Linked DNA regions of Homo sapiens: all the other regions are reported to be linked to region 1. The links are microRNA targets in miRTarBase. Many come from high-throughput screens and were not tested one by one. Region 1 holds a microRNA gene; each other region holds the end of a gene's coding sequence.

Evidence for each region. Region 1 holds the annotated microRNA hsa-miR-6756-3p (UCCCCUUCCUCCCUGCCCAG, at 1,576-1,595, shown strand). A microRNA usually pairs through its seed, bases 2 to 8, with sites in the 3' UTR of a target mRNA and lowers its output. Matches are read on the target gene's strand: a 7mer-m8 pairs with bases 2 to 8, a 7mer-A1 pairs with bases 2 to 7 and ends in A, and an 8mer does both.
Region 2: miRTarBase lists SOX4 as a target of hsa-miR-6756-3p. Seed matches in the 3' UTR shown: 7mer-m8 at 1,131-1,137 and 7mer-A1 at 2,268-2,274.
Region 3: miRTarBase lists PRMT7 as a target of hsa-miR-6756-3p. The part of its 3' UTR that is shown has no 7-base or 8-base seed match.
Region 4: the mRNA of CILP2 is a reported target of hsa-miR-6756-3p. Seed matches in the 3' UTR shown: 7mer-m8 at 2,976-2,982.
Region 5: miRTarBase lists SMIM18 as a target of hsa-miR-6756-3p. Seed matches in the 3' UTR shown: 8mer at 3,153-3,160.

Annotation. Positions count from the first base shown.
Region 1 is chr11:119,310,432-119,314,544 of GRCh38, reverse strand. It overlaps MIR6756 (microRNA 6756), which reads left to right and starts at 1,533; the gene lies at 1,533-1,595. MCAM (melanoma cell adhesion molecule) reads left to right here. Exons shown (of 16, transcript NM_006500.3): 5 at 1-56; 6 at 1,596-1,775; 7 at 1,897-2,018; 8 at 2,117-2,279; 9 at 2,375-2,493; 10 at 2,596-2,737; 11 at 2,894-3,015; 12 at 3,124-3,265; 13 at 3,360-3,455; 14 at 3,642-3,789; 15 at 4,079-4,113.
Region 2 is chr6:21,595,644-21,599,756 of GRCh38, forward strand. It overlaps SOX4 (SRY-box transcription factor 4), which reads left to right. Exons shown (of 1, transcript NM_003107.3): 1 at 1-2,976. The coding sequence ends at 316. Among named protein-coding and RNA genes, the nearest start is that of SOX4, 3.9 kb to the left of the region's middle. RefSeq lists an enhancer at 669-868.
Region 3 is chr16:68,356,516-68,360,628 of GRCh38, forward strand. PRMT7 (protein arginine methyltransferase 7) reads left to right here. Exons shown (of 19, transcript NM_019023.5): 18 at 186-282; 19 at 539-2,069. The coding sequence ends at 709. It overlaps SMPD3 (sphingomyelin phosphodiesterase 3), which reads right to left. Exons shown (of 9, transcript NM_018667.4): 9 at 1,812-4,113. Among named protein-coding and RNA genes, the nearest start is that of PRMT7, 48 kb to the left of the region's middle. RefSeq lists an enhancer at 77-236.
Region 4 is chr19:19,545,400-19,549,512 of GRCh38, reverse strand. It overlaps CILP2 (cartilage intermediate layer protein 2), which reads right to left. Exons shown (of 8, transcript NM_153221.2): 8 at 2,854-4,113. The coding sequence ends at 3,497. Among named protein-coding and RNA genes, the nearest start is that of CILP2, 9.2 kb to the right of the region's middle. RefSeq lists an enhancer at 3,448-4,113.
Region 5 is chr8:30,644,770-30,648,882 of GRCh38, reverse strand. SMIM18 (small integral membrane protein 18) reads right to left here. Exons shown (of 3, transcript NM_001206847.2): 3 at 2,819-3,602. The coding sequence starts at 3,573. The coding sequence ends at 3,286. The region is part of intron 2 of GTF2E2 (general transcription factor IIE subunit 2); the gene reads left to right. Among named protein-coding and RNA genes, the nearest start is that of SMIM18, 8.2 kb to the right of the region's middle.

The DNA.
Region 1 (4,113 bases):
CATTCCTCAAGTCATCTGGTACAAGAATGGCCGGCCTCTGAAGGAGGAGAAGAACCGTGAGTAGCCCTTTCTCCCAAAAGCCACCCTTGGGCCAGGTGTGGTAGCTCACACCTGTAATCTCGGTGCTTTGGGAGGCCAAGGCAGGAGGATCTCTGGAGGTGAGGAGTTCAGGACCACCTTGGACAACATAGGGTGACCCTGTCTCTACAGAAAATAAAAAAATTAGCCAGGCATGGTGGTGTGTGCCTGTGGTCCCAGATACTTGGGAGGCTGAGGCAGGAGGATCATATGAGCCCAGGAAATGAAGGCTGCAGTGAGCTAGGATTGCACCACCACACTCCGGCCTGGGTGACAGAGCGAGACCCCATCTCTTAAAAAGAGCTGTCCCTATGGTACTACACAGGAACTGCCTTATATTTTCATTAAGCTTTTAACTTAAAAAAATTATACAAATGGTACTTGAAAATATTTTCATGAGAATTTAAACTGACAAAAAATCTAGAAGTTTCTTCTTGCCTGAGACCCCCCCTCCCAGAAATAATCTCTGCTATCAGGGTGTGTTCTTTCAAGCCTATTTCTATGTATTTGCTCATATATAGAAATATTTCTAGAATGATATAGGCTTCTGTGTTTTATTATCTAAATCAGTCATTCTTAACCAGGGGTGATTTTGTACCCCCTCCTCCTAGGAGATACTTGGCAATGTCTGGAGATATTTTTGGTTGTCACACATAGAGGGGGTGCTACTGCCATCTAGTAGGTAGAGAGACCAAGGATGTTGCTAACATCCTATAGGGCACAGGACAGCCCCCACAATAAAGAATCAACGTGGCCTAAAACATCAGTAGTGCTGGCTGGGCTCACGCCTGTAATCCCAGCACTTTTGGAGGCCAAGGTGGGCGGATCACCTGAGGTCGGGAGTTCAAGACCAGCCTGTCCAACACGGAGAAACCCCATCTCTACTGAAAATACAAAAGTAGCCGGGCGTGGTGGCGCATGTCTGTAATCCCAGCTACTCAGGAGGCTGAGGCAGGAGAATCACTTGAAGCCGGGAGGGAGGTGGAGGTTGCGGTGAGCCGAGATTGTACCACTGCACTCCAGCCTGGGCAACAAGAGTGAAACTCTGTCTGAAAAAAAAAAAAAAAAAATTATCAGTAGTGCTGAGAAACCCTGGTCTAAGTGGTGGTGTATGGTATACATTGTTAGACAATTTCTTTTATACAATGTTTCTGGGTCAGTCTATTTAGATCAACTGATCGTTTTGCTTACTGCCAAGTTTTCCATACTACGCATAGCAGGTAGTCGAGTTCACCATTCCCCATTTAGTGGACATCTAGACGGCTGCTCGTTTTTATCATTGCAGCATTCTTTGCACACATCCTTGGATATGAGCAGACATGAAAATGTTTTTCTAGGGTTGACACTGAGCAGTAAAAGTGCTGGGTTGAAGGGTTTCCAGCTTGCATTTGTACCTGGCCTTCTACAGGGGACAGGGGGCTATTTAGATGGTCCCCTGCCAACCCCAGTGGACAACCCTAGGGTGGGGCTGGAGGTGGGGCTGAGGCTGAGTCTTCCTCCCCTTCCTCCCTGCCCAGGGGTCCACATTCAGTCGTCCCAGACTGTGGAGTCGAGTGGTTTGTACACCTTGCAGAGTATTCTGAAGGCACAGCTGGTTAAAGAAGACAAAGATGCCCAGTTTTACTGTGAGCTCAACTACCGGCTGCCCAGTGGGAACCACATGAAGGAGTCCAGGGAAGTCACCGTCCCTGTTTTCTGTGAGTACTAACCTGACTCTCTGCTTACTGGGGCTGGGGCTGCTGGAAACTCCTGCTGGCTCCCCCTTATCCAGCCCAGGGTTGACTCATGGGCCAAGAGCTACCCCCTTTGCCTATGCAGACCCGACAGAAAAAGTGTGGCTGGAAGTGGAGCCCGTGGGAATGCTGAAGGAAGGGGACCGCGTGGAAATCAGGTGTTTGGCTGATGGCAACCCTCCACCACACTTCAGCATCAGCAAGCAGGTGTGGGGGCTTTGTGCTGGGTGCAGGTGGGGATGCAAGCAGAGACCCAGGTGGAGTGGCGGGAGGTGCACTCTGCTCACCTCCCCAATCCTCCCTAGAACCCCAGCACCAGGGAGGCAGAGGAAGAGACAACCAACGACAACGGGGTCCTGGTGCTGGAGCCTGCCCGGAAGGAACACAGTGGGCGCTATGAATGTCAGGGCCTGGACTTGGACACCATGATATCGCTGCTGAGTGAACCACAGGAACTACTGGTGAACTGTGAGGGGCTGGGGACCCAGGACAGGGGGACCAGGCTGGGGCAATAGGGAACTGGCCCCACCCTGCCCTGGGTGACATGATTGCTGTACCCCCAGATGTGTCTGACGTCCGAGTGAGTCCCGCAGCCCCTGAGAGACAGGAAGGCAGCAGCCTCACCCTGACCTGTGAGGCAGAGAGTAGCCAGGACCTCGAGTTCCAGTGGCTGAGAGAAGAGGTACCCAGGCGGGTCTGGGGCAAGGGGCTGATGGGGTGGGTGGGGCTGGCGGTGACAAGAATGTGCTCTTTCCCAGACCCTCTGACCCATCTCTCATCCCAGACAGGCCAGGTGCTGGAAAGGGGGCCTGTGCTTCAGTTGCATGACCTGAAACGGGAGGCAGGAGGCGGCTATCGCTGCGTGGCGTCTGTGCCCAGCATACCCGGCCTGAACCGCACACAGCTGGTCAACGTGGCCATTTTTGGTGAGGCCCTCCCTCTGGGTAGAGACCAGGTCACCCCAAGTGGGGTGGTTTTTAAGCTCTTTGACAAAAAGCCACCTGCTGCCCTGGGGAGCTCTGGTGCGGAGGGGGAGGCAGGCTAGCTGGGCTTGCCACCTCACCTCTCCCTACCTCCCCAAGGCCCCCCTTGGATGGCATTCAAGGAGAGGAAGGTGTGGGTGAAAGAGAATATGGTGTTGAATCTGTCTTGTGAAGCGTCAGGGCACCCCCGGCCCACCATCTCCTGGAACGTCAACGGCACGGTGAGCGGGTGTCTCATCTGCCACACTCTCCTAATCCCTGCCTGCGCTTTGTGGCCAGGACCAGAGATCCTCCCCATCCCCTGAGCTGCCTCCTTCCTTTCCTCGCAGGCAAGTGAACAAGACCAAGATCCACAGCGAGTCCTGAGCACCCTGAATGTCCTCGTGACCCCGGAGCTGTTGGAGACAGGTGTTGAATGCACGGCCTCCAACGACCTGGGCAAAAACACCAGCATCCTCTTCCTGGAGCTGGGTGAGGGCTGCATCCCTGCAGGGGATGGCAGGGGCAGGCCCAGGCACGGGCAGTAACTTGCGCTTCTCCTAACACCCCTCCCTCTGCCTCCTAGTCAATTTAACCACCCTCACACCAGACTCCAACACAACCACTGGCCTCAGCACTTCCACTGCCAGTCCTCATACCAGAGCCAACAGCACCTCCACAGGTAAGCCAGGCCTGGCAAGAGAACAGGGCTGTGCCAGGGCATCCTTTCTGCCCTGTCCCTCCCCAGAGAGCCCTGTCCAGAAAGGTGAGTAGCAGCCCCATCTTGTCGGCCCTGGACTGGCTGGGCCAACGATGGTGACGAAGTGGCCTGGGGCAGGGAGTGACGAGGAGTGTCTTTGTGGCGCAGAGAGAAAGCTGCCGGAGCCGGAGAGCCGGGGCGTGGTCATCGTGGCTGTGATTGTGTGCATCCTGGTCCTGGCGGTGCTGGGCGCTGTCCTCTATTTCCTCTATAAGAAGGGCAAGCTGCCGTGCAGGCGCTCAGGGAAGCAGGAGATGTAAGCCCAACACCGGCCCCTCCGCCCCCGCCCGTTTTGCCACCCAGCCTGCTGCCTGCCCAGCGCCCGCCTGCCCCTTGACAGCAGGAGTGGGGCCCTGGGTCAGGGTGCTGCCTGCTCCACTACCCACTGCCCAGCTTCCATCAGCCACATGGTCTCATGACCTGCTTCCCTGCCCTGGGCTGGCCCTGGAGCAAGGAGCCCTCATCCATTCCACATCCTTCACAGCGGGCCCTTCTCTTCCTGTGGCCCTGAGATACCAACCTCTCACCTCCCTCCCTCCTCCCAGCACGCTACCCCCGTCTCGTAAGAGCGAACTTGTAG
Region 2 (4,113 bases), not on the chromosome of region 1:
CCCGTCCAGCGCGCCCTCGCACGCGTCCTCCTCGGCCTCGTCCCACTCCTCCTCTTCCTCCTCCTCGGGCTCCTCGTCCTCCGACGACGAGTTCGAAGACGACCTGCTCGACCTGAACCCCAGCTCAAACTTTGAGAGCATGTCCCTGGGCAGCTTCAGTTCGTCGTCGGCGCTCGACCGGGACCTGGATTTTAACTTCGAGCCCGGCTCCGGCTCGCACTTCGAGTTCCCGGACTACTGCACGCCCGAGGTGAGCGAGATGATCTCGGGAGACTGGCTCGAGTCCAGCATCTCCAACCTGGTTTTCACCTACTGAAGGGCGCGCAGGCAGGGAGAAGGGCCGGGGGGGGTAGGAGAGGAGAAAAAAAAAGTGAAAAAAAGAAACGAAAAGGACAGACGAAGAGTTTAAAGAGAAAAGGGAAAAAAGAAAGAAAAAGTAAGCAGGGCTGGCTTCGCCCGCGTTCTCGTCGTCGGATCAAGGAGCGCGGCGGCGTTTTGGACCCGCGCTCCCATCCCCCACCTTCCCGGGCCGGGGACCCACTCTGCCCAGCCGGAGGGACGCGGAGGAGGAAGAGGGTAGACAGGGGCGACCTGTGATTGTTGTTATTGATGTTGTTGTTGATGGCAAAAAAAAAAAAGCGACTTCGAGTTTGCTCCCCTTTGCTTGAAGAGACCCCCTCCCCCTTCCAACGAGCTTCCGGACTTGTCTGCACCCCCAGCAAGAAGGCGAGTTAGTTTTCTAGAGACTTGAAGGAGTCTCCCCCTTCCTGCATCACCACCTTGGTTTTGTTTTATTTTGCTTCTTGGTCAAGAAAGGAGGGGAGAACCCAGCGCACCCCTCCCCCCCTTTTTTTAAACGCGTGATGAAGACAGAAGGCTCCGGGGTGACGAATTTGGCCGATGGCAGATGTTTTGGGGGAACGCCGGGACTGAGAGACTCCACGCAGGCGAATTCCCGTTTGGGGCTTTTTTTTCCTCCCTCTTTTCCCCTTGCCCCCTCTGCAGCCGGAGGAGGAGATGTTGAGGGGAGGAGGCCAGCCAGTGTGACCGGCGCTAGGAAATGACCCGAGAACCCCGTTGGAAGCGCAGCAGCGGGAGCTAGGGGCGGGGGCGGAGGAGGACACGAACTGGAAGGGGGTTCACGGTCAAACTGAAATGGATTTGCACGTTGGGGAGCTGGCGGCGGCGGCTGCTGGGCCTCCGCCTTCTTTTCTACGTGAAATCAGTGAGGTGAGACTTCCCAGACCCCGGAGGCGTGGAGGAGAGGAGACTGTTTGATGTGGTACAGGGGCAGTCAGTGGAGGGCGAGTGGTTTCGGAAAAAAAAAAAGAAAAAAAGAAAAAAAAAGAAAAAAAAAAGATTTTTTTCTTCTCTTAATCGGAATCGTGATGGTGTTGGATTATTTCAATGGTGGGGTTAATATAGCATGTTATCCTGTCTATCTTTTAAAGATTTCTGTATAAGACTGTTGAGCAGTTTTTAAAATAGTGTAGGATAATATAAAAAGCAGATAGATGGCGCTATGTTTGATTCCTACAACGAAATTATCACCAGCTTTTTTTCATTCTTAACTCTTTAAAGGATTCAAACGCAACTCAAATCTGTGCTGGACTTTAAAAAAACAATTCAGGACCAAATTTTTTCTCAGTGTGTGTGTTTATTCCTTATAGGTGTAAATGAGAAGACGTGTTTTTTTCCTTCACCGATGCTCCATCCTCGTATTTCTTTTTCCTTGTAAATGTAATCAGATGCCATTTTATATGTGGACGTATTTATACTGGCCAAACATATTTTTTCTTTTGTCCCTTTTTTTCTTTCCTTTCTTTTTACTTCCTTTATTTCTTTATTCCTTCCTTTTCCTTTTTTTCTTTTTTTTTTCTTTTTTTTTTTTTTTTTTTGGTAGTTGTTGTTACCCACGCCATTTTACGTCTCCTTCACTGAAGGGCTAGAGTTTTAACTTTTAATTTTTTATATTTAAATGTAGACTTTTGACACTTTTAAAAAACAAAAAAAGACAAGAGAGATGAAAACGTTTGATTATTTTCTCAGTGTATTTTTGTAAAAAATATATAAAGGGGGTGTTAATCGGTGTAAATCGCTGTTTGGATTTCCTGATTTTATAACAGGGCGGCTGGTTAATATCTCACACAGTTTAAAAAATCAGCCCCTAATTTCTCCATGTTTACACTTCAATCTGCAGGCTTCTTAAAGTGACAGTATCCCTTAACCTGCCACCAGTGTCCACCCTCCGGCCCCCGTCTTGTAAAAAGGGGAGGAGAATTAGCCAAACACTGTAAGCTTTTAAGAAAAACAAAGTTTTAAACGAAATACTGCTCTGTCCAGAGGCTTTAAAACTGGTGCAATTACAGCAAAAAGGGATTCTGTAGCTTTAACTTGTAAACCACATCTTTTTTGCACTTTTTTTATAAGCAAAAACGTGCCGTTTAAACCACTGGATCTATCTAAATGCCGATTTGAGTTCGCGACACTATGTACTGCGTTTTTCATTCTTGTATTTGACTATTTAATCCTTTCTACTTGTCGCTAAATATAATTGTTTTAGTCTTATGGCATGATGATAGCATATGTGTTCAGGTTTATAGCTGTTGTGTTTAAAAATTGAAAAAAGTGGAAAACATCTTTGTACATTTAAGTCTGTATTATAATAAGCAAAAAGATTGTGTGTATGTATGTTTAATATAACATGACAGGCACTAGGACGTCTGCCTTTTTAAGGCAGTTCCGTTAAGGGTTTTTGTTTTTAAACTTTTTTTTGCCATCCATCCTGTGCAATATGCCGTGTAGAATATTTGTCTTAAAATTCAAGGCCACAAAAACAATGTTTGGGGGAAAAAAAAGAAAAAATCATGCCAGCTAATCATGTCAAGTTCACTGCCTGTCAGATTGTTGATATATACCTTCTGTAAATAACTTTTTTTGAGAAGGAAATAAAATCAGCTGGAACTGAACCCTAAATCTTGACTTTTGTCGTTATTATGCCCAATGCCTAAGATTGGAAAGGCCCTACAGTATCTGGACACTACACAATCTGCCTTAGCTTTAAAAAAATAAGTTCTCAGAGGAGTCTTGTCAAATGCTACCTTATCGAGGAACATTAAATGTCTCTTGGCCAGATTTCCTCTGACCCTGAAAATGATGGCATCAGCTGAATATGTGTCAACTCAACACATGCTTTCTAGGAATTTTCTGAGTTTACCATATTTAAAAACGCCCTTTGTCTTGGAATCTGAAAGAGGGGGAGGGGCAACGTGGACAGAATTCTTCACAGATGAAACTGGCTAGATGATCTTTTTTTCAAGTTGGTGCTCCTGGAGCTGCTTTCTCCTTGATTTGCCCATGCTTACCTCCAGCAGTGGCTGTAATTGGTTTTCGTGGGTTAAGGACAAATAAACTGTTATTATCAGTAGATTATACAGGAGGAGGCTTTTACCGATTATGAAATGCAAAACGTATGCATTTATGCATTTTTTTTCTCAAGCAGAAAGGTTGATGTGCTACAATCTTCATTTTTTGCCATGCCCAACATGGTGTTAATGTAAGAGAACTGCAGCAATAAGGATGACCTGGAGAAGCTGGCTGCATGTGGGCTCAGAGGAAAGCCCCCTCTCCAAATAGCACTTACTTTGGCTGCTGGAGATTTGTGCTTTTTCTAAGAATCAGGAAGGATTGTTGAGACTGCAAGGTGAAAAAGTACTTGGATTTCTTAAGGCCCATTACTCTTGGGTTTGGAACATACAACTTGCTAAGTGGCACTATTTCCTGTTTATTTTGAGAGTTAACAATTGCTATTAACTAACAAAAGCCATCTTCCAAATGTTAATTAAAAATGTGTCTTTTACTTGTCTTGAGTTTTTCAGCACTGGAGAGGAGGGGTTAACAAGCAGAAGTGTTTGGAAATTATCCCTTAGTCATTTGGATTGCTTGTAGATAAGGGAGTAGTATCCTGGAAGGTACATCTGGAAAAAGAGACCTTTTGAAGACTAGTCTAACAGGAGGGGGTTTTGTGGTTGTCCAACGAAAAGCAATAATGCACCCCCAAAAACCAGTATAACTTGTGTTTCAATATAATTTATCTCTTAAAGATAGCTACTA
Region 3 (4,113 bases), not on the chromosome of region 1:
GGCTGCGGCTCTTCTGGCTGGGGTTTTTCTGAGGAACGTTTATGTAACTGCAGCACTAGGAACTCCCGGCAGGGCAGGAAGGAAGTGGGGAAGACCACAGGTTTCTGGAAAGCCGCAGGAGCTGCAGCTGTTCCCCCGCTGCCTCTTGTGTGACTACTTCTGCTGGGCCCCCCTCTCCTTGACAGGCCCGGGCAGAGCCACGCAGCGGTGCTATGGATGGAGTACCACCTGACCCCGGAGTGCACGCTCAGCACTGGCCTCCTGGAGCCTGCAGACCCCGAGGTAGTGCCTGCGCACCGGGCCCAGTGTGCGTGCAGACCCTGAGAGCAGGCGCCGCCTGGGGAGGCCTCCCTGCCCCCATGCTCTGGGTGTTTCTGTCACAAGTTCTTCGGGCCAGATGATGACCCCTCAGTGGTCCTGGGCCATCTGGCCCCTGAGCAGCTTCTCTCTGCTGCGAGCTGCCTGGGCTGGAGGCTGGCTAGGAAGGAGGCTCAGGTGCCAGGGAGCCCTCACCATCTTCCTGCTCTTCTTCCTACAGGGGGGCTGCTGCTGGAACCCCCACTGCAAGCAGGCCGTCTACTTCTTCAGCCCTGCCCCAGATCCCAGAGCACTGCTGGGTGGCCCACGGACTGTCAGCTATGCAGTGGAGTTTCACCCCGACACAGGCGACATCATCATGGAGTTCAGGCATGCAGATACCCCAGACTGACCACTCTTGAGCAATAAAGTGGCCTGAGGGCTGGGGTTCTGAGTGGCTCATGGCTTTCTAGCGGGGAAGGCTGAAGGCCCTCCTCTCCTCTCTGGGAGCTGCTCGGCCTCAGGGATGGGAAAGACTGCGCCGTGTTGCATCTTGTTGCATCTTTGCACTGCTGGCCTCTGGCTCCAGCTGTGGCAGGAAGCATGAGAGGGTGACTGAATTTGGAGCCCTGGAGGGGCTGGGAAGACCCCCCTGCTTGTGCTTCTGAGGTGCTGAGAATGCTCCAACACAGAGACATCTCTCCCCAGCTGGGAAGGGAGTGGAAGCACAGGGAGCTTGTGGGGCTGGCCGGTGGGGTTGTCCACGCCGCCCTTGGCGAGCAGTCCCCGTGGCGGGAGCCTGTCCTGTCTGTCTCACTCTCGAGGATCTCCGGGTCCCTGCTCTTCTGGCTTCTGCTAGGAGGGTGGAGATGCTGAGTTGTGGCTGGGTCTCTGGGGCTTGAAGACCCTGGCTGGGCCCGGGCTGAGAGGCCTGGGTTCTGGCCCTTTCACCTGACAGGTAACTTCAAGCCACATCCATAGGTGTCTGGCCTCAGTGCTGCACCAGCTGGTGGCCTGCCAGGACCTGAGACTGGACACAAGGCAGCTGTCCCAGAGCAGTTCCTGAGATGCAGGCCCAGGAAAGTGGCTGTCAGGGGAGCTGGGAGGCAGCCCTGTTCCCTGCACCTCCCTCAGATTGGAAAGCCCCTCCTGCAGGTGGGGTATGGCAGGGAGCAGCCCCTGCCCAGCGCCGCTTCACCAGGAAGGTCAGTAGGTGCCGTGGCCTTGCTTCTCTCACACACTAACCCCCCTTTGGTTATGTCCCAGCTCTCAGAGGTAACAGCAGACACCACGTGAGAGAACCCAGTGGCCTCTGGCTCGCAGCTTAGAAGGTGAGGCTTGTGCCAGGCCAGCCGAGCCGCCTGTATGAGCAGAGTTCCGGTGTCCTCGGATTCAGGGCAGACTTGGGCAGTGCCTGTCCTGCAGTTGGGGGCAGGAACTCCCTCCCCTGCCCCCAGGCGTGCCCCTGAGGCCTGGCCCCAGCTTGTCGCTGAAATAAGTGGAGAACACCAGCCTTGAGCCTCACAGTTTTATTTTCTCCTCGTTATCCATCCTTCCTTTCAGCACCAGTAAGGAAAAAGAACACCTCTCTTCGCAAAATATTTTATCAGGTGTAAAGACTTGTTTTTCTTCTAGGGAAGAACCGTCTGGATATATATTTGATAATGTTTTTACCAAAACCATAGGTGTGCTTACCATAGAAAACCCCTAATGTCCCATGAAGATACAATACAGAAAAAAATACAGAAATTAAAAAAGTTTTTATAACAGTATTTCTAAATCTCAGCAAGTTAAAAAGCAATAGTTAAAAAGCATCAAGATTAATATACTTAAAACTTAAGGTGGTTTTGGACAAATGAAAATGAACATTTCCTTCCTCAGTGGCCCCCGCGCCTTGTGGCTTCCTTTGAGACTGGGCCTAGGGCAGGAACAGAGTCTTGGTATGGGCCTCGGGTGACCCGTGTGCCCACCCCTGCTAGGCCTTAGATGCCACAGAATCTGAGATCCAGCAATGGTTCACTTTAAAAAATCAGTGGAAGGGCCTGGCCTGCACACAAGGCCCGGGAGTCCATAGGCAGCCACAATGAGACACGTGGGTGGGGGGGTCCCGGTCTTGGTGCTGAGGGAGGTGTGCGGGGGCCTGGGGGCCGCACATCCTTACTCTGGACCCCAGGACCTGACTAGGCAGAGGCGACCTTGTGATGACAGAAAATGACTTGCCTAAGGCCGCCTGTGAGGTGGGAGGGGAGGAGCATGCAGCCCTGACTCCCACGCCTGCTGCCCCGGGAGGGGGTGCCTGGGTGGGGAAGCTATGTTGGGGTCTGGTGTGGGGGCCCTGCCCGGGCCTCAACTGCTCTCCCTGTGCAGGCAGTCGGCAGGCGGCTCGGGGTCTAGGGGTCCAGGGCCGGCCGGCCCAGTCGCTTGTGTGAGCAGAGTACCAGCTGCTTCTGGAAGTTGGGGGCCTCCACATCATGAATCCCAGTCAAGGCTCACAGGCCAGCCCCTTGGAGGGGTGGGCCGGGCAGAGAGCCCAGCAGGATGCTCGCCCTCAGCAGCCCCTTCCTGGCTCTGGACTCTGGAGGGGCAGGGCTTGGGCCCGGGCAGACGGTGCTTCCCAGGCCAGGTGAGTTCAGACAGGCCAGTGTCACAAGGACGCACGTCCTAGCGCCAGGCTCCCTGGGCTCTGCAGCGTTGTCTGCCCCAGCACAGGGCCAGGCATCTGGCTGGCTGCGTGGCCCCCTCTTGGTCCCTCTTGCAGCTCAATGGGTGACAAGGCACAGCATCAGGGCACCAGCACCAGGAGGGGCTGACAGCAGACAGCAGGTCCTGGTGCTCCCTCCAGCCTCACCAGGCAAAGCCGGCCCTGGGCCAGGCTGGGTGTAGGGCCAGGGCGCCACGAGGAGCGGAGGTCAGCGGGGATTGTCAAAAACAGTCCCTCAAGTTGAGTCTCGAACTTTGAAACAGACAAAACCTTCGCTGCATGACAGGAGCAGCCCTGGAGTCTCTTAAAGGCAGGTGGGCAGAGGCAGTGCTGCCGAAGGGGCCTGGGGGCTGTAGGCATCTTGGGGCTGGAGGCAGATCGGGGACCACAAGCTGTTGGCCAGCTCTGCCATGCTGAACTTGGGTGCCAGTACCACACCCTGCCCTGGGCATGCAGCAACTGTCAGCCTTGCTGCCCCAGCTTGCGCACTGGTGAGGGCCAGGCTGCTCTCTGCACCTTGGCTTCCTGCCTCCTAGGCCGGGGTCCCCTTGTGGCCTTGGTGTTGGCTGGGGTAGCTGTTGAGGATGGGCCTGGGAGGCCAGAGCCGCAGCCCCACCCGGGGGGCAGGCAGGGGTTCCTGAGCTCAGCCGGCACGCAGGTGGGGCACGTCCCCAGGGAGGGATTGGTCCCGAACCAGAGAGGTGTCCCGTGGGGGAGAGGATTGGCAGAAAGAAGAGGATGTGTTGGTTTTGATAGAAGAGAAGCTACAAATAGATTATTTTCAAAATCAGGATCCCCCCCACCCCCGTTTATGCTGTGAGTCCCTTCTTCCTGTAAAAAAAAAAGTGGATACTCTCTTCTCGGATCCCCGTTTATGGCTCCACTGCCCAGATGGGAGGCTCCCGGAGGAGGCCCAGGGTGCCAGAGCCTGCCAGACTCTGTTGTGCCTGAGCTGGGGAAGGGACCCTGTCTCGGGAAGAGCAAAGTTCTATGAGTGACTTACAGACCCTGTGAAGTGAGGGTTGGTTTTGTGATTAACCTTTTTCTGTTTTTCTTTTTAAAATGTAATTGCCCTTGAATGCGAGACCCTGGGAAGAGCCCTGGGCTGGCTGGTA
Region 4 (4,113 bases), not on the chromosome of region 1:
GGAGCCAGGGATGTTCAGCCAGGACAGGAGGCAGCTGGCGGGGAGAGGGCGCTGGGCTGCAGGGTTTGGACCCTGGAAGGGCCCCCAAGTAGGAGGGAGCAGACCCCAGTTCCGTGAAAGAAGCATGTTGTAAGAAGCTGAGTCCTGCACCAGCTCCAGGGGAGTCTTTGTCACGAGATATTGTGTAACCTTCTCCTGCTTCAGCACAACCCATAGCTCCCTATTGCTCACCAGAGAACTCAGGCTCCTCACTCAGCATTCGAGCCCCTGCTCACCTCCACTTTGTGTCTCCCTTCTACTGCCGCCCTCCGTGGGTCTCCCTCCTCCAGCTTTCACGTTCACCTTTCCAGCTCCCTGGTATGCCCTTCCTGCCTTGGCCACCCAGCAAACTCCTACACATCCTTCAAGACCCAGTGCTTATGTCCCCTTCTCCAGGAAACATTGCCCTTCCCCAGCCCACAGTACCCCATTTGCTGTGTGACCCTGAGAAGATTCCTCCAGCTGTGGAATGGGGGTAAAAATCATCCTCCCTAAAAGCATATTTTGGGGATCCCAAGGCAACAGATTTATACTAAATGCCCTTAAAGTGAGTTAGGCTTTGCGGGGGCTGGCTCGGAGGGCTTACAGTCAGTCAACGCTCAATGTGTGTTCATTTTTATCTCCCTCCTCTTGGATTCTGTGGTTTGAAGACTCTTGTTTTAAACATTTTACTGTTCCAAGATTTTTTCCCCATCATGGTGCTAGGAATTTTAAGAACCCCTGGTTCTAAAATTATAAAAGTCTAAAATGCCGTGGGCGGGACCAAGGGCCTGTTTGTGCCCTGAGCTGACCCAGGGTGGCTGCAGCTGGGGGTCTCTTCGAGGGGGTCCCCTGCCCCTCACTCCTCCCAGACTGAGGGGGTGTGGTCTGGCAGCCCCAATTTGGTTGGGGGGTAGACAATGGATTTACCAGGAGGCGGACGGTAGCCCAGGTTCCAGGAGGGAGGGGGTGGGATTCCTGGCTTGAGGGCTGCAGTTGGGGGAGACAGGCAGTGTCAAGAGGCACAAGGCTGTTGACTCAGGTTGATGGCGTCCTTCTCTTGGAGCCTCAGTTTCCTCATCTGGAAATTGTGGCCAAACGCTGCCCTCTTGCAGAGTTATCAGCAGGGATGGGGAGGAGCTGGACTCTAGCCCCGTGCCCTGCCCAGCTTTTGCTTCAGCCATGTCCTCCTCCTGAGATGCCCTTCCTGGCCCAGGCGTGGTGACTGGGGAGGGGGCTTCTGGAGGATGCCCGTCCACCCCTGCCCCACCCTAGGGAAGGGGACAGGGCTGGGCCAGCTGCCCGCTCCATGCCTGGCTGGCCGCCCTAGCCTGGCAGCGTCGGAGGCCCCAACACTTTCTCAATGAAAGGTATTTGGCCGTGGAGCCTGACACCTCATCACCCTCCGCCTGGAAAGCTGCAGCCAGCTTTGCCCGCTTCAAGTGGGAGCGCCCCCATTCCCACCCCTCCCCAGGACCCCCACCAGGCAGCCCTGAGCAGGGTTCTGTGGCAGGCAGGCCGGGAACCTAGGTTGCCTTGGGAGGGGCCTGTGCCTCTGAGCCTATCAGCTGGGGGTATAGAGACAGTAAGTTCTGGATAAATGTGTGTTCTCCCAAGCCCTGCCAGCTCCCTCAGGGACCTCTCGCCTCTCTTGCCTGTCACAGCCTATCGAGGGTGAGGCTGGGGTGCCAATGTCTGGGGCTGCCCAAACCCAAACTCCAGCAGAGCCCTTAGGGCCCACCTTCAGAGACCAGGGGTGACGCCTCGCATCTTGGGCTTCTCCCATGCCTCCAGGCCCCCAAGTCCACCCTAGGGCAAAGGAAGTGTTTCCCTGACTGAAAGGGTGAGAGCTGCGGAGGTTCGGATTTGCCAAGACCTCAGCCGAAGGGGGGATGTGGCCAGTGGACAAGAGCCAGGGACCCTCTGGGTGGAGCACTGGCCCAGGGCATATTGGGGTATGCACGTGTGAGCCTGTCTCCCCCTAGAGAGATAGGCTCTCTCAGGTCCCCTGAAGTTGCTAGTGCAGAGCTCACACCTCTAAATGCTGGATGGGTGAATGATGAGATCGGGGGTCTGGAGAGGGGAGCCAGTGAATGGGTGGGAGATTGAAGAGGAAGTGGGTGGTTGCCCCCTAAGCTAAGGGACGCTCCATACCCCCACTCCCTAGGGGGTGTCAGCCAGGGACAAGTCTCCCATCCCAGGTGCCCTGGAGGCCACTCCAGTCTTGCCACATTGATGCCTTCATCCCCAGACCCTGGGGAATCACACACCTAGAGCTATAGGGGGCTCAAACCTGCTGGGATTCATGCCAGACCCCAGGACTTCAGTTTTTCTGTCTGGACAGTGGGGGTGTGGTCAGGACAGCGCCGGCCCTGTGGAGCGCCAGGAGGACACACGTGCACACAGACTGCCAGCCAGCCGTGATTCTGCCGCCTCCAGACCCAGGGTCCTGGCAAGGTCAGAAAGCCCTGGCCTCGGGCAGCCCCGTCGCCACATGACCGAGGTGTGGCCGGGGTTCAGGTGGGTGGGGCCCAGGGTGGGGCTGCTGTGGACTCGACTGAGGAGGTCCAGGGTGGCCTGGCTTGCTGTTGCCTGCCCCAGAGGCTCCCCTGCCAGGGCCCCTCCCTGCCTGCTGTAGCCCCGGGGCATACGGCCAGGCACAGCCAAGGAGTCCAGGCCAGAGCAGCAGGCTGCCACTGTGTTCAGCGGTCACAGCCGCCCGTGCTTCTTGCCCCCGGCACCCGCGTGTGCCTCCGCGTGTTTCTGCCTGAAAGGTGTATCTGGGCCGGGCAGCCCCAGCCTCCATCCTTCCTCCCTAGAGCCTGACACCATGAGTTGGAAATAAAGCATTTTTAATTCAGCCCCCGGAGGGCCTGCCCAACGCCCCGGGCAGGTCTCTAAGCACCAAACACGTGAGAATTGTTCCCCTCAGCCCCAGAGCCTCCCCCGCATGGGAACCCCTTCCTCCTTTTCACTGGGCCCAGCCTGGACCCCACACCCCCACTCACACCCACAACCAGCTCCCCACACTTTGTTTCAATAAATAACCCCAAAAACAAAGCTCGGGGCAGGGGACCTGGTCTAGCACTGAGCTCCAAACAGGCAGAGGGGACTTTGTGCCAAACGCCAGAACTCCCAAGGGTAGAAGATTGAAATCAGGGTCAAAATACGCACGAGAAGTCAGAGACGGCTTCTGAGCTGGGAGCGGGTCCCTTCAGGCTAGGGTTGAACGTCGTCCCCTGGGTGCTGGCCCCAGAGTCACCGCAAACTCCATTCCATACCACACAGCAACAATTGTCTTCCTGGTGTTTCTACCATCGGATGCTCTGGGTTCTTGTCTGACTCTGAGTTCTGGAAAGGGGCGGGAAAGGGGACCCAGACACCTGGGGAGGGGGCTGTCTGGAGAAGAAGGAGGGGCAAAACTTCCTGGGGTCAAAGGAGTCTGGAGGGAGGTGGGAAAGCGAGGCCCCTGCCCAGGTCACTGCCGGACCCTACCCCGGCGGGTGCGGAGGGGACCTGAGGCCCGGGCCTGTGCCTGCGCCGCCTCGCTCATCTCCCTGCGGATGTCACCAAGTGCTGTCGCCGGGGACTCCAGCAGCCTCTGGAAGAGGCTGGGTCGTCCGGCCGGTGGCTCCCGGCACTGGAAGGTGACGGCTGTGCCGGCATCAGCCTTCATCTCTCTGGAGAAGCCGTCAGAGGAACCATCAAAGCAGCGGCCAATGGCGATCTCCTTGGCCAAGCGTGGGCTCTGGTCAGTGACAGTGTAGACGCCATAGTTGTGGCCCAGAGGGTCTAGGGGGGCCAGCATGGAGAAGGCAGCTGGGTCCTCCGCGGGCACCGGTGGGGGGTGCCGGGTCAGGTAATCCCGAAGGAGTCCGTTGACGGCCACGCGCCGGCAGCTGCCCTGGGGCATAATGGTCACCAGCGTCCTGTCCACCTGCCGCTGGTCGAACAGCATCCCGCTGCACTTGAACTCCACGCAGGCTGCCGAGGTGCCCGGACGCTCGGGGTCTCGCACACTCCGGGCATCCCGAAGTCCGTAGAGCTGGCCGCGGGTGCGTGGGTGGCTGCCCCCTGCGTTGTGGGAGCGGACCA
Region 5 (4,113 bases), not on the chromosome of region 1:
ACAGTCAGGGTAGGATAAACTGTGTTGTGGTAACAATCCCAAAAATCTCAGTTTCTTAAAACAACAGAAGCTTGTTTCTCCTTCATACTACATGTTTATCATGGATTGGTAGAAGTCTTAGCTAGTTATAGTCACTCAAGGACCCAGGCTGGCAGAGCAGCTGGAAGCTCAAATGTTTGTGAGTTCTGTGCTAGCAGGAAAACTAACTCTGGAAGAGCTTGCACTAGCAGTTAAGTGCTGTGGCCTGAAGGTGACACATGTCACATCCTCTCACAGCTCATTGGCCAGAGTTAGTCACAAGTCACTCATTGGCCAAAGTTATGTTCCCAGCCATAGGGGGCTCTGAAGTGAATGCTTTCCTTAATGAAGAGAGCTGGAAATATTGGGTGTAACAACTAAAGGCTACCATGCCACTCTAGTTCAGGCCACGGTCATTGGATTGCTAGGTTAGCTGTTGACCAGGTCTCCTGGTTTAGCTGCTTTAGTGTTCATTCTTCATACAGCTGTGATTTTTCTCATTAGATCATGTTGCTTTCAGCTCAAGCTGATTGTTACTGTTTTTCAGATAAAGTCCATGTTTTACTGCAGCCTGCGTGCCTGCCTCATCTGGCCTCTAATTATCTCTTAGGTGTGGTATCATACTGTTCTCCTTGTACTCTGTCCTAGTGATACTGACTTGTAGCTCCTCCAACATGCTTTATTCTCTCTTGCCTCTTGGCTTTTATTCGTATTATTTCTTCTTCCTGGAATATTCTTTCTTACCTCCTACCCTCTTTTGGTTCTGTCCTGTTCTTTTAAGTTTCAGCTTAAAAGTCATATTATTCTCATTCTTCAGTGTGAATTCACTGTATAACCTTTGAGTTCCCATATCACTACTCTTTTTGACAGAGCTTCCAATGTGCTCCATTGTAGTGACGTGGTTCCTTGTTTGCCACTCTGCCCTCAGTATCTGGCCTAATTGCTGACATGTAGTAAGCACTCAGTAAATATTTGTTGGATGACTAAATAATTACAGGATAGGGTGGGGGAGAAAGTTGGTAATGTACACTATTAAAAAATCTGATTATTAAAGGACTTGTATACTTACCATCTATTGCCAAGAATCCAACGTTTGTGAAAATGTATATGGTTTTAACAGTGCTCAGTTCCTGGTTTCCAAAGTATTTTATATATCCAAGCTTCACAAATCCTTTTAAAGTTGGTTATATTATTTGTGTTTGTTTCTAATGTGAGAATAAATATAAAAAATACTTTGTGGAAGAGTTATTTCAGACCGGCAGTTAAGATTCTTTTGTTTGTTTGAGACGGAGTTTCACTCTTGTTGTTCAGGCTGGAGTGCGATGGCATGATCTCAGCTCACTGCAACCTCTGCCTCCCAGGTTCAAGTGATTCTGCCTCAGCCTCCCAAGTAGCTGGGATTACAGGGGCCCCATTCCCATGTCTGGCTAATTTTTTTGTATTTTTAGTAGAGATGGGGTTTCACCATGTCAACCAGGCTGGTCTCGAACTCCTGACCTCAGGTGATCCACCTGCCTCGGCCTTGCAAACTGCTAGGATTGCAGGCGTGAGCCACCGCGCCCAGCCGATATTCTTTAAATTGAAAAGAACAGATTTCCTCTCTTCACCACACAGTTATTTATTGCACACAAAAAATTCCATCAGTAATAGAGATTTAAAAAAAGTCTTTTATAATACCTAGTGCTTTTTTTTGTCCCCACAGCCCTCTTAATATACCAGCTATTCTAATTCTCCATATTTGTTTTCAAACCTTACTCATGTGTATATTTATAATATCAATAATTGTATTAAAACTTTTATATGGTGAATTTATTTTTTACTTTTAAATACTTGTCTATCTTGCCAGACTTTTCGGTTGCTTTTTTTTTTTTTTTTTTTTTTTTTTGAGACGGAGTCTTGCTCTGTCACCCAGGCTAGAGTGCATTGGCATCATCTCGGCTCACTGCAACCTCTGCCTCCTGGGTTCAAGCAGTTCTCCTGCCTCAGCCTCCCGAGTAGCTGGGATTATAGGTGCCCACCACCATGCCCGGCTAACTTTTGTATTTTTAGTATAGACGGGGTTTCACCATCTTGGCCAGGCTCGTCTTGAGCTCCTGACCTTGTGATCCATCCGCCTTGGCCTCCCAAAGTGCTGGGATGACAGGCATGAGCCACTGTGCCTGGCCTTCAGTTGCTTTTTAATAATTCATTAAGTTGATGTGCCACATTTAGTTAAAGTCTTAGTTATTTTCAATTTTTTGTTATTTTGAGTAATGCCATTGTAAAAAATCTTTGTACCTTGAGCTTGTACATTTGAACTAAGTGCTTAGGATACATTTCCAGGAGTGGCATTTCTGACTTAGGGGTAGTGTGGTGGTTAAGAGCATGCTTTTGTTTGCTCATGGGTGATAGCAAAATAGTGTTAGGGTCACAAAATATCTATATAGCCCTTGGAATTCCAAGAAATAAAACTGCCATATTTCAACAGGTGTTGAGTGGCCCTATCTTTTGACCTTTTTTGGGGGGATGGGGGGAGGGGCAGTCTTTCTGCCTTGGTTATCTTAGCCTTTGAGAGTATAAATAAGAGAGGTAAAATGAAAGAACAAACTCAGGAAATGAAGGGGTGTAGTAGTAAGTTTTAGTTTGAAAATAGACTAGGCCTTTCCTATATCATGCATTTCTAACTAAACAGTAAGTCAGTTTTGTGAGAATTTTGTGCAAATATACTTGTGGCATTTTTGATTATTTTGAGACTTTTTCATACTAATCCTACATAAAACTCAAGTCATTATATATTTATATAAGTTGTTTTCAGTAAATTAGAAAATACTACTTTTTAATAAATAGGAACTTTATATATATAAGTGGAAGTATTTTACTTCAGACTTAGAAACATGTTTTAAATAGCCTTTTTGTTACCAACACACTATTTTTTGTCTACATGAATTGGTTAGTTATAAAATCATTTTAGCATCATTAGCCTTGCTTGTCTTTTCCAGCTTATCTTTTGCTGCTTAATATTGAACTCTAGGAATCTTTTATCCAGTTTTTGAAGTGTCAGTATTAAACAGATTAGTAAATTCACATTCATGAAGTTTTACTGTATATTTAATGAAATGGCTATACACACAAACAGTGCATGTTTAACTTTTTTTTCCCCTTCTACTAGAAATGTTTTAACCATTCAGTCAGAATTTGTTTTGTAGCAACAGTTGGCCTCAGAATATATTTTTTTTCTCAGAAGAGGTTGAGCTGCTTTCAGAGATTTTGTTCATCTTCTATAGAGTGTTAGACCACTTCAGTTTCACGTTTTCTGATGTTGTCCATCATACTTCTAAGAGGGTTGGGTTCACTTTTCAAGTCTTTCACGGTTTTGTTTTTTACACAGCAGCAGCAGTCAAGCACTTCATAAAGGAAAGCCAGCACCACTAAAGATACCACTGTAAATATAAATAAAAGCAGGATGACAAAGCAGGCAGTGTTCCAGTTGTCATGGAAAGGGTAAATTTTTTGAACTTGAAAACCAAGGTACTGATAAACAGAGGTAGTGGTTTCATTCCAGTGGCTGGAAGCCATTCTTAGAGATTCCACTTGCTCTTTTGAATCTATAAAAAAGGTAGAAAATGAATTTATGTAGCAAACTACAGATCTGTTAATTCAAATCTCAGTACTAAGATTTCTTAGTAAATTTGTATAGGCAACATGAATCTTCCTTAATTAATGCCTAAATGGTAGTTTTGAATTTTTTTGTATATCTGGGCCAACGTCCTTAGTCAACCATACCCTGTTTTTTAACATATATTATTTGCTAGATGAATATGTATATTTAAGATTCAGGCCAGGCATGGTGGCTCACGCCTGTAATCCCAACACTTTGGGAGAGTGATGTGGGCAGATCACTTGAGCCCAGGAGTTCAAGACCAGCCTGGTCAACATGGCGAAACCCGTCTCTACAAAACATACAAAAATTAGCCAGGCATGGTGGTGTGTGCCTATAGTCCCAGCTGCTTGGGAGGCTAAGCCGGGAAGATTGCTTGAGCCAGGGAGGCGCAGGTTGTGGTGAGCTAAGATCGTGCCACTGCATTCTAGCCTGGACAATGGGAATGAAACCGTTTC